Regions from separate parts of the Homo sapiens genome. Here region 2 is linked to region 1. Evidence: fine-mapped expression QTL. A gene starts in region 1. The other region holds a variant in brackets. All regions are shown on one strand. Distances are between the middles of the regions.

What was found. PIP is the estimated chance that this variant, and not a neighbour inherited with it, causes the effect.
Region 2: its variant is fine-mapped to the expression of CTSB in whole blood (TOPMed, PIP above 0.99).

The regions. Positions count from the first base shown.
Region 1 is chr8:11,865,955-11,871,211 of GRCh38, forward strand. CTSB (cathepsin B) reads right to left here and starts at 2,133. Exons shown (of 10, transcript NM_001908.5): 1 at 2,047-2,133. RefSeq lists an enhancer at 1,397-1,606 and silencers at 1,697-2,026, 2,167-2,286.
Region 2 is chr8:11,889,634-11,895,115 of GRCh38, forward strand. No RefSeq gene overlaps it. Among named protein-coding and RNA genes, the nearest start is that of CTSB, 24 kb to the left of the region's middle. RefSeq lists a silencer at 1,492-1,675. The variant G/T (reference allele first, on the strand shown) is at 2,129.

The sequences.
Region 1 (5,257 bases):
GTGGCAGTGAACCGAGATCGCACCACTGCACTCCAGCCTGAGCGATAGAGGGAGTGTGTCTCAAAAAAAAAAAAAAAAGAAAGAAAAAGAAATTAAGAAAGAAAAGAAAATCACTGACAGACATCCCAAGGCACCCCTGAAACGTGACCTCCCTTCAATTCACTTCCCAATCCAACCAAGAGCAACAGAAAATATCTGTTACCCCTAAAATGGGTGCAACTTCTCTTCCAACTCCCAGGTCCAGCAGCTGGGGAAAGAAAAGAACCTGCCTACAAAAAGAGCCTCCCCAGTCTGCTAAATCAGCACCACATGGGCAGTTTCAACCTGGAACCAAAGGGCCACCACCCCTCACCGCCTAACCAGTTGGAAACAGGGCTGTCCTGAGCCAACACCCAGGAGAGCTGTGCCAGGGCCGTGTCTGGCCTGCGTTGCCACCTGGGGAGCAAGGGACCTGTGCCTTTCCACCAGGGGGTACCCCCAGCTAGAGGACAAATGACCAAAGACGAAGGGAAGCCTCTGTTCTCCAGGAGACGTTTGACTCTGTCTTTGGGAAAGCTACACAGGGTGGGCGGCCCAGCCCCTTTCTCCAGGAGCTGGCGGGTTCTAAGTCACCAGCACCAGAGCCAACAAGAAACAGTTCTTGGCCAGGCACCGTGACTCACCGGGAGGCCGAGACAGGCGGATCACCTGAGGTCAGGAGGTCAAGATCTGCCTGGTCAACATGGTGAAACCCCATCTCTACTAAAAATACAAAAATTAGCTGGGCGTGGTGGCGGGCACCTGTAATCCCAGCTACTCGGGAGGCTGAGGCAGGAGAATAGCTTGAATTTGGGAGGCGGAAGTTGTAGTGAGCCGAGATCGCGCCACTGTGCTCCAGCCTGAGAGACAGAGCCAGCCAACGCCCTCTTAGGCCTCTTCGCCTTACGTTCCTGAACGTTTGGATTCAAAGAGAGTGCATCTCAGCTATCCTCTCCTCCGGCAGCAGGCAGTGGGAATGTTTTTCCAGGCTACAAAAAGGTGCCAGGTCTGCATTTGAACCCCACAGCGTCACTTCTCCAGTGGGTTTGGGGGGTCTCTCGTCCGTTAGGAGGAGGAGTGTGGGGCCTGCGCTAGGGTCCTTTTCTTTGCCAGCCTGCTGGCTTTCTCAGCGCCTGGGAAGGGGGTGACAGAGGCCCACCAGGAAGCCAAGTGCAATTCACTTCCACCTGGGTCGCCCACCCCAGCCTGCCTGCAACGCCCCACACCCAGCACCCACTGCTCCCCAGAGGCCAACTCCCCCCGGCCTCCAGGGCTACTAACCGAGGGGGAGGTGGCGCCCCAGGGACTCTGCCCGGCCTCCCTTTACTGGAGTCCAGGAGCAGGGTGCGCCCCCGGCCTTCTCCCCACCGGCATCCAATCGCCCATTCGCCTCTTGGTTTCGCTGTCTGGTTTCTCTTCCTGTTTATGGATTTAACACCGTGCGGCTTCCTCCCCAGCCCACCCAGTGCCAGATTCCTGTTCTTCAACAGGACCTGTCTTCTGGGGTCCCAGGAATTGCGTGGGATCTTGCGCAGAAAGTTGGCCAGGCAAATCCTTCGCAATGAGGGGGAAATAAACCGAAAATAGATGCCGGCAGATGCGATTATGTCGGCAGTTTGGCCCGGAGACACCGAGGCCCAGGCGCTGGGAGCGCGGTCCCAGGCAGCAGTCTCCGGACCCGGCCGAGCTCTTCCTCGCAGGCGCCTCCCTCGGCGGTCCTGGCCGCGTCCCCGCTCCGAGGGCCGGGGTCCGGCGCACAGCCCGGGGAGGGGAGCGGAGGGCAGAGGGCTGGCGGGCGGAGCTGTTTTCTGCTTTTCTCGCCGACGCTTCGGAGCGCGCGGACTCCCACCCCAGCCCGCCCGTCAGGGACAGTCCCGAGGGTCCCGGCTCCCCGCCGGCCCCCAGGGACGCCGCGGGGCCGCGCCTGGGCCCGACTGAGGGCGCAGAGGAACCCGTCTCGGCGGCCGGGTAGCACCGTCCCCGCCAAGGTCACTTACGCTGCGGTGGCCCCGGGTCCCCAGCACTCACCCAGCGCTGCAGCCGAGAGCCTGCAGCCCAGCCTGCGCGCAGCGGAGCGGTTGGCGTTGCCGGAGCGGTTGCCGGAGCCCTGCAGCCGCCGTAGCCTGGGCCAGCCCCGGCCCTAAGTACCCTCCCGGCCCCGCCCCACGTGACCACCGCGCAGCCCCGCCCGGGCCCTCCCGCCGCCCGCGCACGGTGCTTCCCAGCCCCCACCCCCTCCCGCCACCTTCCGCCGCCCGCGCTCCCCGCTTCCCGGCCCCGCACACCCCCCGCCCCCTTCCGCTCGGGGTCCGGGGCCACCGCCGGGGGCGGGCGGGGGCCTGAGCGCGCGGGCTGGGGAAGAAGGGCTTGGAGCCCTGCGGGCCCTGGGTGGCGAAACGCTGCGAATTGGGGCCAGGGGATGGGGAAAAAGCCCCTAAAGGTGGTCCCAAGGCCCCCACCCCGCCTAGAAAAGTCCCCCCGCCTCGCGGGACCGCCTCCGCCAGAACCCGCGCCTGGGATCCCTGCCTGCCGAGTTGGCGGGGGTGGGGTGGTGGAGAGGGCGCCGTCGCTTATTTCATTCATTCAGAAGCCGCTGCAGAGGCTGGGGGTGGCGAGGCTGTGGACCCCACAGAACAGCCTTTAGAAGGGCCACTTTGTTGTTCAGAGAACGTACCCACAAAACACTACAGCTACGTACAAATAGAAAAGAGTGGCTGTCACTGCGAAGGAACCTAGGAGCTGCGTCAGGATTTCTAAGAGGAGAAGGACCTTGGGGGCGGAAATCGGTTTGGCACAGGAGTACCCGGAGACCTGCTCCGAGAGGACGGACAAAGTGCACATTTACTTGGGGTTTATTACCGGGAGGCCCTGGAAGGGAGATGCAGGGGTTGGCTCAAGACTCACCCTCCTCCAGACACTCCCCAAACAGCTTTAATCCTTAAGACAAACCTGCAAAGCAGGCATGACCCCAGTTGTATTCAAGAGGCTCAGAGGGGCTGGGTTCGGTGGCTCACGCCTGTAATCCCAGCATTTTGGGAGGCCGAGGCCGGTGAGTCACCTGAGGTCGGGAGTTCGAGACCATCCTGACCAACATGGAGAAACCCCGTCTCTACTAAAAATACAAAACTAGCCGGGCGTGGTGGCGCGTGTCAGTAATCCCAGCTACTCGGGAGACTGAAGCAGGAGAATCGCTTGAACCCGGGAGGCGGAGGTTGCGGTGACCAGAGATCGCACTATTGCACTCCAGCCTAGGCAACAAGAGTGAAACTCTGTATTAAAAAAAAAAAAAAGGCTCAGAAGAATCGTATTTTATCCAGGCTGTGGCGACAGTAAGAAGGCAGTAGCCGGGTGCAGTGGCTCACGCCTGTAATCCCAGCACTTTGGGAGGCCGAGGCGGGCGGATCACGAGGTCAGGAGATCAAGATTATCCTGGCTAACACGGTGAAACCCCGTCTCTAGTAAAAATACAAAAAATTAGCCGGGCGTGGTGGCGGGCGCCTGTAGTCCCAGCTACTCGGGAGGCGGAGGCAGGAGAATGGCGTGAACCCGTGAGCTGAGATCGTGCCACTGCACTCCAGCCTGGGCGAAAAGCGAGACTCCGCCTCAAAAAAAAAAAAAAAAAAAAAAAAAAAGGCAGTAGGACTGCATGGGACCTGGTTCCCTGCAGCCTGGTCGTCAGCTGTCACACAGCCCTGAGCCTGTCTTCAGAGACATGCCTGTACTCCCGCCTGGTTAGTAACAAACTAAGGATAGGAGTGGAAGGAAAAAATAATCTCTGGAGCCCAAACATGGTCACTAAGCCCCCAGCAGAGTGGGATACCCGAGGAACTGAGGACCAGGAGGCTGGAGGTCAAGGTGGTCCCAACTGCCTGCTCACCCTAGTCATATCCTGACAGCCATGGACTCTGGACTCCAAATCATTTCAGACCTCTATAAGGAGCTCATAAGATGGCCAAAATGGGGAGGACACAGCCAGAACCAGGATAACTCTCCCCTCTCTCATCCTTAGAGTGTGACAGAAGGTATGCAGAGCAGAGTGCTTGACATGCGTTATGGCTATTTGATGGAATTTTCCATCAGTGTCATTATAGAAATCACTTTTGAGAGGTAAAAATCACTTTTGAAACAAAAGAAACAGGCTAGGCGCGGTGGTTCACCACTGTAATCCTAGCACTTTGGGAGGCTGAGGCAGGCAGATCACCTGAGGTCGGGAGTTCCAGACCAGCCTGGCCCAAATGGTGAAACCCAGTCTCTACTAAAAATACAAAAATTAGCTGGGCGTGGTGGTTCACGCGCCTGTAATCCCAGCTACTTGAGAGGCTGAGGCAGGAGAATCGCTTGAGCCCGGGAGGTGGAGGTTGCGGTGAGCCAAAATCACGCCATTGCACTCCAACCCGGGCAAGATTCCATCTCAAAAGAAAAGAAAAGAAAAAAAGAAATAGGCCAGGCGCAGTGGCTCACGCCTGTAATCCCAGCACTTTGGGAGGCCAAGGCAGGCGGATCACGACGTTGGAAGTTCAAGACCAGCCTGGCCAACATGGTGAAACCCCGTCTCTACTAAAAATACAAAAATTAGCTGGGTGTGGCATTGCGGGCCTGTAATCCCAGCTACTCGAGCGCTGAGGCAGGAGGATCCCTTGAACCAGGGAGTCAGAGGTTGTAGTGAGCCGAGATCACGCCATTGCACTCCAACATGGGCAAGACTCCTCAAAAGACAAGAAAAGAAATATATTACTACCAGAGTAGAATTCGTCCCTTCCTGGAACATCCAGGAAAGCTTCATGGAGAAAGGAACATACAGCATATTTACTTGTATATGTTCCTTCCTGCCCTCACTGGATCTTAAGCCCCACCCAGGCAAGCATTTTTACCTGCGGTGTTCCCCTGCTTCATCCCAGCTCATTGCAGGGTGTCTGGCCCATAGCAGAGGATAGAGAAATGTGAGTTGAGTGGATGCATAATGAATGAAGTAGGCCTTGAAGTTGAGGAGAATTTTGGCTTAACCTGCTAGATTTGGGGGTCAGGGTTCAGGGCCTGGGGAACAGCTCTCAGAACTTACAGAGAGGCCTTGACTCACGTGTGTAAAAGCTGTTTGCTTGTTGAACATCCGTAAAAGAGGCCTAAGTTAACACCTGAAAGAGGTGAAAACATACGTCCTCACAAAAATCCGCCGGGCACAGTGGGCTCACGCCTGTAATCCCAGCACTTTGGGAGGCAGAGGTGGGTGGATTACTTAAGC
Region 2 (5,482 bases), 24 kb after region 1:
CTCAATGCTATGCAGGGATTTTCTCCAGCGTGATTCCTTTGGTGAAACAGTGGCCCCCACTTCCTACTGTCTGCCCAAACCCAAGCCAGCGAAAGTGTCCATTCACCCATCCATTCAGTCATTTACTCATTCATTCAACAAATATTTATTGAAGACTTACTGTAAAGGTCTTATAAAAGGTGATGGAACCTTGTCCATATCAGGGTTAGACATGGCTAAGTTCTGGGGAATTAGAACATATTATTAATCTCCATAACAAATACAGCTTTTGATGACACACAGAAACGAATGAAATCGGACACAAAGTCCCAATCAGTTTTTGGAAATAATCCACAAAATAAATGGAAGTTTCAGTTCCATAAACAACTAAATTGGATCCAGATATCAGATAATTCCACATTATATTGAAAAAGAAGAAATCGGGCCAGGCATCAGCATGTTGGGAGGCTGAGGTGGGCAGATCACTTGAGGTCAGGAGTTCAAGACCAGCCTGGCCAACATGGTGAAACCTTGTCTCTACTAAAAATACAAAAATCAGCCAGGTGTGCTGGCACATGCCTGTAATCCCAGCTACTCAGGAGGCTGAGGCATGAGAATTGCTTGAACCTGGATGGCAGAGGTTGCAGTGGGCCGATTGTGCCACTGCACATGGTTTGGCTGTGTCTCCACCCAAATCTCATCTTGAATTGTAACTGCAAGAATTCCCATGTGTCGTGGGAGGAACCTGGTGGGCAGTGATTGAATAATGGGGGCAGGTCTGTCCTGCACTGTTCTTGAGATGGTGAATGAGTCTCATGAAGTCTGGTGGCTTTAGAAATGGGAGTTTCCCTGCACAAATTCTCTCTTCGCTTGTTTGCCCCCATGTGAGATGTGACTTTCACATTCCACCATGATTGTGAGGCCTCTCCAGCCATGTGGAACTTTAAGTCCAATAAACCTCTTTCTTTTGTAAATTGCCCAGTCTCTGATATGTCTTTATCAGCAGCATAAAAATGGACTAATACCATCTTGTATACTGTTTGGTTAATAAATGCCCTTCTGGGAGACAGGCCTCACAACATCCACAAAAGCTGGGCTGCTTTCTGGGGCAGAAAGAGCTTAATGAAGATTAATATCTTTGTGTTGAGTGAACTCTGAGATGGCTCCCTGTGGTCCCTGACTCCTGGTGTTCTCACCCTTGTGTAATGTCCCCAATTGTGTGCAGGCAGGACCTTCGATTTGGTTTTAACAAACAGAGAAGAGCAAAGATGATAGGATGTCACCTCTGTAAATATAAGATGACGACTTGTGTCTTGGTGGCAGACTCTCTCCTTTATAAGCTTTCATAAAGCAAGTTGCTTGATTGGGGAGGCCCACAAGGCAAGAAACACAGGGTGCCTTCTGGGAAAAAACACCTAGGAATCAAGGCCCTTTGTTCAACTGCCTAAAAGCAATTGAGTCATGTCAACGACCAAAAAGTGAGCTTGGAAGCAGATTCTCCCCAGTTGGGCCTTTCGATAAGACTCAACCTTGCCTGACACCTTGAGTGTGGTCTTGTGAGAGACCATAAAATGGAGGAACCAGCTGAGCTGTGTCCAGATTCCTGACCTACAGAAACTGTGAGAAAACGTGTGTGTGTGTGTGTGTGTGTGTGTGTGTGTGTGTGTGTGTGAGCCAGAATCTTGCTTTGTCACCCAGGCTGGAATGCAGTGGCATGATCATAGCTCACTGCATCCTTGAACTCCTGGGCTCAAGTGATCCTCCTGCCTTAGCCTTCTGAGTAGCTAGGATGGCAGGCACACATCACCATGACCAGCTAATTTAACAACTTTTATTTTTTGGTAGAGATGGTATCTCACTATGTTGCTGAGGCTGGTCTCAAACTGCTGGGCTCAAGTGATCCTCATACCTCAGCCTCCCAAAGTATTGGGATTACAAGTGTAAGCCACTTCACCCTGCCGATGTGTGTTGTTTTAGGTGCCAAATTTATGCTCCTTTGTCACTCAGCAGTAAATAGCTAAGACAATCCTAAACAAGGTTTTTGAGATGGTAGAATAAAGACTCTCTGGGGTCCAATTAGTATTGGCCTGAGGCAGATTCCCTGAACAGAAAAGGAAGTGACCAGTAAATCTGAGTCATCTGGGATGAG[G/T]CCCCTTGTTACTAAACCCTCAGATTCCTTCCTGATGAAATGAGAAGTTTGGATAGCTCTCCAAGATCCCCTCCCCTCCCCTCTCCTCTCCTCCCCTCCCCTCCTCTCCTCTCCTCTGTATTTTATTTTCTTTTGAGACAGAGTCTCACACTGTTGCCTAGACTGGAGTGCAATGGCGAGATCTCAGTTCACTGCAACCTCCACCTCCTGGGTTCATGCAATTCTCCTGCCTCATCCTCTCGAGTAGCTGTGGTTATAGGCGCACACTACCACACTCGGCTAATTTTTTTTTTTTTTGTAGTTTTAGTAGAAATGGGGTTTCACTATGTTGGCCATACTGGTCTCAAATTCCTGACCTCGTGATCAGCCCTCCTCGGCCTCCCAAAGTGCTGGGATTACAGGCATGAGCCACCGCGCCCAGCCTTTGTTTGCTTTTCTCTCTTTTTTCTTTTTTGAGACGAACTCTTGCTCTGTCGCCCAGGCTGTGGAGTGCAGTGGAGCAACCTTGGCTCACTGCAACCTTTGCCTCCCAGGTTCAGGTGATTCTCCTCCCTCAGCCTCCCAAGTAGCTGGGACCACAGGAGGGGACACGCCACCGCACCAGGCTAATTTTTGTATTTTTAGTAGAGACGGAGTTTTGCCATGTTAGCCAGGCTGGTCTCAAACTTCTGACTTCAGGTGATCCACCCACCTTGGCCTCCCAAAGTGCTGGGATTACAGGCATGAGCCACCACGCCTGGCCACTTTCTTTCTTTTTATTTTTGTGTATTTGTTGTATGTTTTTAGGTTTGAGGTTACTGTAAGGGTTGCAAATATCTTGTAAACAATTATTTTAAATTGATGACAGCATTGATTGCATAAACAAAAACCAAACTACCAAACAAGCAAAAAGAAAACTAATAAAAATTCTACACTTTAACTTGCTCTCCCCACGTATTAACTTATTTATTTATTTTTTTTGAGACAGACTCTCACTCTGTCACCTAGGCTGGAGTGCAGTGGCACTATCTTAGCTCACTGCAACCTCTGTCCCCCAGGTTCAAGCAATTCTCCTGGCTCAGCCTCTCTAGTAGCTGGGATTAAGGTGTGTGCTAATTTTTAAATTATCATGCCTGGCTAATTTTTGTATTTTTAGTAGAGACAGGGTTTCACCATGTTGGCCAGGTTGGTCTTGAACACCTGACCTCAGGTGATCCACCTGCCTCCCCCTCCCAAAGTACTGGGATTACAGTAATGAGCCACCACATCTGGCCCACTGTTTCTATTGATAACTTATTGTACTGTCTATGAGTTGAAAAGTCATGGTAGTGATTATTTTTGATTGGTTCATCTTTTAGTCTTCTTCCTTAAGACATGAGTAGTTTACACACGACAATTATGGTGTTATAATATTTTCTGTTTTTCTGTGTACTTACCAGTGAGTTTTGCACCTTCATATGATTTCCTATTATTCATTGATGTCCTTTTCTTTCAGATTGAAGAACTTCCTTTAGCTTTTTTTTTTTTTTTTTTTTTTGTGTGTGAGATGGAGTCTCACTCTGTCACCCAGGATGCAGTGCAGTGGCACAATCTTGACTCACTGCAACCTCCATTTTCCGGGTTCAAGTGATTCTCATGTTCCAGTCTCCCGAGTACCCAGGATTACAGACGTACGCCAACACGCTCGACTAATTTTTATATTTTTAGTAGAGATGGTGTTTCGCCACGTTGACCGGGCTGATCTTGAACTCCTAGCCTCAAGTGACCCGCTTGCCTCAGTCTCCTAAAGTGCTGGAATTACAGGCATGAGCCACGACCCCGGCCCTTAGCATTTCTTGGAGGACAGGTCTAGAGTCGATGAAATCCCGCAGCATTTGTTTGTCAGGGAAGTTTTTCTCCTTCATGTTGGAAGGATATTTTTGCTAGATAAACTATTCTAGGTAAAAGTTTCTTTCCTCAGCACTTTAAATATGTCATACTATTCTCTCCTGGCCTTTCCACTGAAAAGTCTGTTGCCAGATGGATTGGAGCTCCATTGGATGTCATTTGTTTCTTTTCTCTTGCTGATTTTAGGATCCTTTCTTTATCCTTGATCTTTGGGAGTTTGATTATTAAATACCTTGAGGTAGTCTTCTTTGGGTTAAATCTGATTGGTGTTCAATAACCTTCTTGTACTTTAAAATTGATACCTTTCTCTAGGTTTGGGAAGTTCTCTGTTATTATTTTATTGAATAAACTTTCTACCCAATCTCTCTCTATTTTCTCTTTAAGAACAATTACTTGGATTTGCCCTTTTGAGGCTAATTTCTAGGTCTTATAGGCATGCTTTGTTGTTTTTTATTCTCTCTTTTTTTTGTCTTCTCTGACTGTGTATTTTCAAGTAGTCTATCTTCAAGCTCACTCATTCTTTCTTCTGCTGGATCAAGCCTGGAATCGAGGGCCTTAAGGGCCCTTTTGGTGCTCTTCCTCACTGCGGCTGAGCTGGCACCTAAGCTCATCACAAAGTGCTCTTTCCTCTTCCCTCTCTCTTTCTCAAGCAGAAGGACTCTCTCCTCGTAGCCACCAGAACTGTGAATGTGCTTCTGGTCACACCTGAAGCCAGCACGTCTCAGAGTCTCACTCAAGGCCAACTGCCTGTACTACTTGGTTACTGCTGCTGATTATTCAGGGTCCAAGGGCTCTTTAGTCAGCAAGTGATTAATTCTTCCAGGACTGAGCTCTTCTCTCCAGGTCAGTGGGTTCCCTTCTGGCCCAGGGTGTGTCTAGAAATGTCATCCAGGAGATAGGGCCTGGAATGGAGCCCTCAAGACTGTGACTAGTGTCCTATCCTACTGTGGCTGAGCTGGTATCCAAGTTGCAAGACAAAGTCCTCTTTAGTTTTCCTTCTCTTCTCCTATGCATCAGGAAGGGGTCTGTTTTGGAGCTGTGAGCTGTGCTGCCTGGGATTGTGGGAGGGGTGCTGCAAGCACTCCCTTAGGCACCCTGGGTGGTGTCTTATTAGCTCATGTGCCCCTCAATGTCCACTGGCTCTGAGCCCACCACAGCACCAGGACTTGCCTAGGATTTGCAGTCCTTGTGGCCTAAACATCTTTCAAGTTTATTTAGAGCCCCACTGCACTTTAGCCCATGGTGGTGAGGCTTGCCAAAACTCAAGTTCCAACCTCTGGGATGGGTTGGAATCTATCCTTCTGGCTAGGACTGGTCTACATGCTCCCTCCAGGGCCACTGGCTGAGTTCTGCCCTATGTCAGTAGCTCTGAATTCCAATTCAAGTTCCCGCGATTGCTGTGCTCTCCTTCTCCCAAGCACACAGATTCTCTCTTCATGTCACGCAGCCAGCCACTGCCAGGGGATGTTGAGGGGTCGGGGGAGGTGA